Linked DNA regions of Homo sapiens. The protein of the gene in region 1 purifies or fractionates together with the protein of each later gene. This does not show direct contact. Each region holds a gene or a part of one and is shown on either strand. Other genes may lie near its edges.

Region 1 (3,892 bases):
GACCTGTGACACCCAGAAGTGAAGGCTTCTGTGCTAATATTGGCAGAGGCAGTGGCCGTGGTAGAGAAGGTGGCAGTGATGGGGGAAGTGATGGAGAAGGCGGCAGTGATGGGGGCAATAGGGGAGACAGAGCTTTCTGTAGTGGTAAAGCAGATGGCATTTATAGTAATCCTGAAGATAATAACAAGTTCTACTGGTGTGTGGAAGGCAATACCTTTCACCTCAAGTATGCCCAAGGTTGGAGCAGAACTGTAAGTGTTGCAACTGGCCTTAAACATACTCATAAAATCCTAGTGTCATAGATTCTGTTGTCTGCATGTCAAACTACATCCTCCAATATGTCATGTAGTCTACGTATTATATAAATCTGTCACTTTGGAAGCTTTACCCCACTAAAACTGCATTATAATAAAGCTTAACTCTATTAAGACCTAAAAATACTATAAACTCCTCGAACCAAGTCTAGATGTAAAATAAATATGGCACAGTATGTTTTAGTCTTCGTGTTCATTTGTACTTTATTACTTTTATATACAATGTAGCATTTAAAGTATCCTGAAGGTTAACTGAAGCTATATTAAAATTTTATCTTTCATCAAATCAGATTACTATTTTAGAGAGTTCCTTTCCCTGGGAAAAGCTTTGAGCGTCTCTGTACCAAACAGTGTGAAAGATGTTCTATCCCCACCTCCACCCCCATCAATATCCTCCAAAGGGACCTAAGAACTTGAAGCAGAAAAAAAAACATTAAATGCTAAATTGTCACCTCTGAAAAAATCTGCACATGTGGGTACAAAGGAGAAAAAGGAGGGAGGTGTACAGGAGAGGTGATAACAGTTAATCCTGACTTATCTCAAGTCATAAATACTTCTTGATAACAGAAATCATTAAGTCATCAGATTAAAAGAAGTGTATATATTAGGTATGTTCTTGCTGAGGTATCTTTATCATTATCTTAATATATCCTATGTGATTTCTCATAAAGACTTTTCTGTCCTTCACCATTATTATTTCAGAAGACCTTGGCCTTTAAGGAATTAGGCACCCCCAGCATCATATGACCAGGAGGCTTCACCTCTTGCTAGCCCTTTCCCCAGGTAACACTCATCAGGGGGTGGCCATGAGGGTTACAGTAGGCTCTCTTGCAGCCACTGGCAGCTTCTCAATCTTTGGTGTCCAGACACATGCAGGCTTATCACCTTTCTGGTAATTACGAAGAAGCCTAAGTGGGTACAAAAGGACCCTTTTATTAAAAGATTAAATCACATTTAGTGCCAATCCTGAACAAACTATATACTTGATTATTTCAGCTAGTGCTGGAAAGAAAGGGGTCTATCTCTCAGGCCTGAGTGTCTGAGTAAGTACTTTAAATGCAGCTGCTTACAAGTCAGTCTGGGGCTATAAATGTTATGATCTTTATAACCCCAGAATGACTTGTAAGGTTCTAGGGGGTCATTCAGATTGGAGGGCAGACCCAATCCCCTAGCTGCCCTGGGGAGTCCTCCTCTGACTTCAGGCCAGGCCCAAGGACTTAGTAGATAAGTTTATTTTGATTCCTGCCATATCCCCAGTGCTTACTGCTCTGCTCAACACATAGTAGGACCTCAGTATATATGTTGACTCACAGACTAAATGGATGATGTCATAGGAAAGGGGCAATTTTTTGGTTTTTGAGTTTTATGTCAATCTGGGAAAGTCAACCAAATCAAGACCTTCCCACTCCACACTGAGCAACACAATTGGGAGAGCTCCAATACATGTTTTAATCTGCCTTAAGTGTTTTCTGTATCTAGCAAGCCCAAATCCCATCCAAACCCTTGACATGTATAGGCTAACAGCCTCCTATGACCAGGGCTAGTGGTAGAATATATAAAATTGGCTCCTGGGAATTAGAACTAGAGAGCAGGGGCCCACAAATATTTCACTAAAATGAAATCACCCAACTCAGCACCCAACAGAAACCCACAGACCCAGACATGCACGTGTACACCACAAGTCAGTAGATGGAGATAGCACTGTGCACTAGTCTTTATGTTCTCATACAGCAGCTATAAGCCCCTGTCCCTCCCTGGGCTCCAGGCTGCCAGACAAGAGGGCCACAGTAACGTAGAAGAAGAAGAGCAGCTCTGTCCTCAGTCCTGGAGAGTCTGTGTATAAGAGGAGCACGTGAAGGTAGTTACAGCCGCTCAATTATAATACAGGCTTAGGTAGGCCACACGGTTCCGATGCTTTCTAAAGTCTTTGTCTGTGGACAGCTGCAATGAAAGAACGTTTTCTAGATCAATATTCTAATGAGAACCCTCTGCCTCTGGTCTTCCCAGTTATGCAAAAAAAAAAAAAAAAAAAACTGTACATTATAGAGGTGAATCCCAACTCCATAGTAATCTAGCCTTAGTGATTCTCCCAAAATTTGTATGTACATCTACCCTTTATCATCTTACTATAGTGTATACCATGCTAGGAATTATTTACTACTTAGTAAATCCCCAAGCAGTTGGTGGGCTTCTTGAAGTCAAGGACTATATGTTTAATTCTTGAGTTGTTGCCCATAGGCCCTAATGCAATAATGTTAATACATTTGGCATTTAATAAATAATTGTAGAATTAATGAAAAGTTCCACTAGGAAAGAAAAAAGCACCTCTGGAATTATGATAGCTAACAGATTGAACAATTACTATGTTATCAAGTACTGTGTTAAATGATTTTCCACATTTTCTTTATAACCTTATCGGATTGATTCTATTTTAATACCCATTTTACAGATTAAAAAACTGAGGCTTAGAAAAGTCAAAAGATTTGCTCAAGATTACACAAGTAAATACTGCAGCTAGTATTTGAATCCAGGCAGTTTTGTCCCCATAATCCATGCTCTTAGCTGAATTCTCTATGGCTCCTCAGTGATCTAGTACTCAAGGGGTATGTCGGAAAGAGCAATGTATTAGGAGTCACAAGATCCAGATTCCAGTAGTGAAACCTGCACAAATCACTTAATCCATCTGGGCCTCTATTGTGTAGGGATATTTCCTCTGTACCTACCACAAAAGTTATTTAAGGATCAAATAAGAAAATGTCACTTTTGTTTAGTCATATATACCTTTAAGAATCTAATGAAATAGTGTAATTCTCCAAAAAGTTCCTCAGATTCATATACACACAAAATTGTGCATATAATTTTTTGGGACCAAGGACTTCCTGAAGTTCATTCACAGACCCCTAATTAAGAGTCCCTAATACCTATGAAAGTACTAGATCGAATAAGAGTCTTCTACAGAAGTTCCAATCTTATTACCTCAGCTTTTAGGGTTCTTTTCTGTAGACATGGAACCTGAGCCCAGTCTGGAGATCCAAATTTCATTGGCCAGGCAATTTTTGGCGGTGGCTTCTTCTCTGGGTTGTATGCACCAGGGCTAGAAATAAAAATACAAGCATCATGTCTAATGAGTTAGTGATCATACACAAACTCCATCAGTACCAGAGCCGTCCCTGGACTAGGCCTAACCTCTTGGAAAAAGGCAACAGATTGATTAGCTTTTTAATTAAGCATGGGATTCCTTTACCTGTTAATGTATTTCGAGTTAGATGTTAGCGTTAAACATCTAACTTGACAATCTTGACATCCAGTTAGAGCACAGATCGACTCCAGATTAAAAGATATTTCTGTACCTCAGTATCTATAGCTGAGAGATGAGAAGGTCCTAGAAGCGGTGGGTGATGAAAGAGATCTAAAGCAGTGATGAATTAGTACTGCCCACAATTTAAAGTTGGTGATAAAAGTGCAGTGATAATCTATCTGCAATGTAGGCAAAGCAAAGCAAAGCAAAGCCAGTTAAATTTTCTTGACAATGGGGTCATTTAAAAATTGTCTTTGTTCATATACACTTTGTCTTTTGG
Region 2 (4,044 bases), on another chromosome or scaffold:
AGGCGAGAAGGAATTTGCTGCTTTAATGAACTTAAAAATGCCAGATATTCGTACTGTCCTGTGAGGTTTCTGCAAACGGGAACATGTGGATGCAACATGGCTTCATCTTCCTTACATGATGGTACTAGTTTATCTATTAGAATGCTTCTTGTTAGTAAGGCTAGGTAATCTCTTCCCATCACAGTTGCTTCCCTCTTGTTCAGTAAAGTTATAAAGACCACCCCTAACAGAGGGCGGGTTTGGGGTTTTAATTCTGATCAAACCCTTGTGAAAGCCTCCATTTTCTGTGGCAAAGCAGGTGAATTAACAAATTCTAAAGCCAGACTATATTTTTACATAACCTGTTCTGAGTTTTGCTCTATCAAGGATTGAAGCATGAGTTAGTTCCATGTCACAAATTAGAATAACAGCTACAATTAAGCATCAATTTTGAAAAACAGAAATGTGTTAGCTGAGCAAAGAATCTCCCTGTAATGCTGTTGGCAGGTCAGCTGTTATTATCTTACTTGACGGAATACATTGGTTAGAAGCTCTATCCCATTTCCTGAAATTCAGTACTCTTGTAGGAAAATATTTCTCCTTTACTTATTTTTTTAAAGAAGACAAAATATTTTAATTGTAAGTGGTCAGAGGAATTCTTCTGGTTTCTCCCTTATGGTTATTTTTAATTTGTACAATAGTTGCTTCTGTCAACTCAGCGACAATGCCATCATAGCTTTCAAATGAGATCACCCTGTAGATCGATGGACTATGCCTTAAAGTTGCAGATGCATAAAGGAGACTGAGGACAAATGGTGAAAACTGTAGTTACTGAACCCAAATGTTACTCAGAGATATCAACTGACAATCACTGCTCAATTCTGAATAAGGGCTGCAGTTCTCTGTAGATTAACACCACGCATTCTGCAAGTTCTGCAGTGGAGTAGGCGAGTTTTCTATCACCTACGACATTGGGCAAATCCCATCCAGGACAGCCATATTTGGATGCTATTGTATGTTACATGCAGAACAGCATGGGTCATCTTTGTCAGGCTGAGCAGCATAGTTCATCTGCCTCACAATTTCTGCAAAGAGTTCGTCCACCATTGTTTTACTCTTAGCGGAAGTTTCCATAAAGGGGCAGCCCCACTCTTCAGCAAGGGCTCTGCCTTCGCTGGACGATACTTCTCTCTCACTTTCCAGGTCCACTTTGTTCCCAACCAAGATGACTGGCACTTTCTCATACCTATGAGAGAATAAACAAAACACACATACATTGTAACAGTTAGCACAAAGTTAAACAGGTCACGTGTATTTTCGTTTTTGGGGGCTATTCCAACATAAATGGTATCTTCAGTTGCATGAAAATGATTTGTACCACTTGGCTTGATACTTAGATCTGAGGGCATTTGAAGCTGCTCTCACAGTGGATGATAAAATGAGTTTTATGAAATGATGTTTTAATTAATCAATTATATATCCTTTAAAATCAATTTACCTTTCCAGATATACTTGGAAAATTATTCTCAGAAACTCAGACTAAATCCTCTTTTTTTTCCATTCTGAGAGAGGGTTGCACAAAATTTCACAGTTGATCACACAGTAAATAGCTACAATGAGTAAACAAACAACTTATAATTATCAGCATTTTACTATGTTCTATGTGTATAAAATTGATCATGTTCATACAAAAATCAGCTGGGTGTGGTGGCAGGTGCCTGTAGTTCCAGCTACTCGGGAGGCTGAGACAGGAGAATCGCTTGAACCTGGGAGGCAGAGGTTGCAGTGAGCTGAGATCGTGCCACCGCACTCCAGCTTGAAAAAATGATCATGTTCGTTCTAATAGTTCTCAAACAAGAAAAAAGGTAGTAGAAATCATCCAAATGGAAGCTATCAAATACAACCACACCCCATCCCTTCAGAAAACTTTTATGGATTAGTCAGTTCAAAGAGAAACAATTAGGATTCTTTTAAGACTGACAAGAATTCAGCCTCAATTAGCTTTAATTGGTGTTATTTCTCTTTTTCTTCCTAACTAAAATAGGTATCTCTGAGTAAACACGTTTGGAAAAAGCTAAACTAATAAAAATAGTAAGTGATAAGAAAGAACAAAGAAAGAAGCTCCTAAGTCATTTTGGTGCCTAAGATGATTGTCTCTACAATGGTTACTCCATGTAGCACATTTCACAACAGATGTCAACACTGGTGCTGGACTGCACATTTATTTACTATTCTTCTTTATGTTTGTTCTAAGAAAGATAGCTAATATATTTTCACAAGACATTTTAAAAGGTTTTTGTGATTTTAGTATAAATCTGTGTGTGTGTGTGTTTGTGTGTGTGTGTCTTCCCATAAGCAGAATGTATTTCTGATTTAAAGGAGCTAAACAGCAAGATCGCACAAAAGTGATAACAAATGTGACTGGAAACAGCTAAATCTGTCAGAAGAGAAAACCACCCCATGGTCAAGCCTTTGAGGCAGGATGCATAGACAATTTTTATCATTCAGGAAACTGGATAATAGGCAGGTGGTTATTGTTCGCTATGATACTTCCACAGATTTCTTCATCCTGTCAAGAGGGTTCTCTCCACTCATCCTAACTTGTAAAGCAAACCAAATTCCCAACATTCTCACTTTTTTTCTTTGACACTATATCAAACTAAGAATGGTCTCAACAAGAGGGCATACTCCAGGTAGTGTGCCATTTGGCAATGTGAAACATGAAAACAACTTAAAAATGAGTGGAAGGAACAACATCAAAGGCAAACCTAGAATTTGGATATTATCATTTTATAGGAAATGAATTTGGACAACTTCAATTTATATCAAAGGACTTTATATAAATTTACTGTACACTACTGTACCTTACGATTTCGGGCCTTAGATCATGCTGACAGCTCTGAACATAAGACACAAGGGTTTTTAACATCTTCTAGGACTCTTACATACAAACAATTTGTGCATCCCATGGCCTCTAGGAGGGCAAGTGGCAGTGAGAATAAAGCTGCATTACAAAACACCATGTATTTGCTACTTTGCATATAAACTCTCTTGATTGGCTATACAGAGAAGCTTGGCAGGGAGCAGACACTGCCAGCCATGTCAGGACAATGTCAGCTTCCAATTTGTGTTACTTGCAAAATGTAATTACATTTCGTTTTTCTTATGAAAGTATATACATCACAGTGTACTTTAAAATGCTTTGCTTGACAGTGGAGTAACTTAAAAACATTAATAAAATTAAGTAAAACATTGGTTGAATTTAAGTTAAAACAAATTTCAGTCTGTCTATGAATAATAAAAAGTGATAAGATCACTTTCTATTAGTTGAGATAAATGATAAATATTTTAAAGAATGTTTAAATACAATATATATAATATATAAATATATATATAAATATATATATAAATATATATAAATATATAAATATCTATATAAATATATAAATATAAATATATAAATATATATATATATATATTTTTTTTTTGAGACGGAGTCTCGCTCTGTCTCCCAGGCTGGAGTGCAGTGGCATGATCTTTGCTCACTGCAAGCTCCGCCTCCCGGGTTCACGCCATTCTCTTGCCTCAGTCTCCTGAGTACCTGGGACTACAGGCGCCCACCACCACGCCCGACTAATTTTTTGTATATTTAGTAGAGACAGGGTTTCATCGTGTTAGCTAGGATGGTCTCGATCTCCTGACCTCGTGATCCGCCCGCCTCAGCCTCCCAAAGTGCTGGGATTACAGGCGTGAGCCACCGCACCCAGCCTGTATCATGTTTTATATGTGAAATATTTCTTACACTTTTAGTTAAGTTCAGGATCTACTAGAATATGTGGATTTTCAAAACTTGCAAATAAATCAAATTATTAAGTTGTATTGATACATTATTAAAATCAAGAATTTGAATAAATCTTACCATCAACCTAATTCTCAAAACAGTAAATAAAATATTGCAAACACAGTTCCACATATAACAGCATTTAATAACTGGTAAATGTAGATGAAAATGCAGTCAGTATCAGAGGACCTGTTTATTATATCACTAACTTGTCAGTGGCCTTT

What was found.
Region 2: the proteins of CIMAP3 (region 1) and RAP2A purify together in Homo sapiens (affinity purification with mass spectrometry, with the first as the bait; one large-scale study listed by BioGRID). This does not show direct contact.

The regions. Positions count from the first base shown.
Region 1 is NC_000001.11:111,349,622-111,353,513, reverse strand, and holds the end of CIMAP3 (ciliary microtubule-associated protein 3), read right to left. Parts: intron 3,409-3,892; coding exon 3,291-3,408; intron 2,256-3,290; coding exon 2,187-2,255; 3' UTR 501-2,186; downstream 1-500. UniProt on the Homo sapiens protein: During primary cilia disassembly, involved in cilia disassembly. Required specifically to control cilia retraction as well as the liberation and duplication of the basal body/centrosome.
Region 2 is NC_000013.11:97,461,386-97,465,429, reverse strand, and holds part of RAP2A (ras-related protein Rap-2a), read right to left. Parts: intron 1,226-4,044; coding exon 988-1,225; 3' UTR 1-987. UniProt on the Homo sapiens protein: Small GTP-binding protein which cycles between a GDP-bound inactive and a GTP-bound active form. In its active form interacts with and regulates several effectors including MAP4K4, MINK1 and TNIK.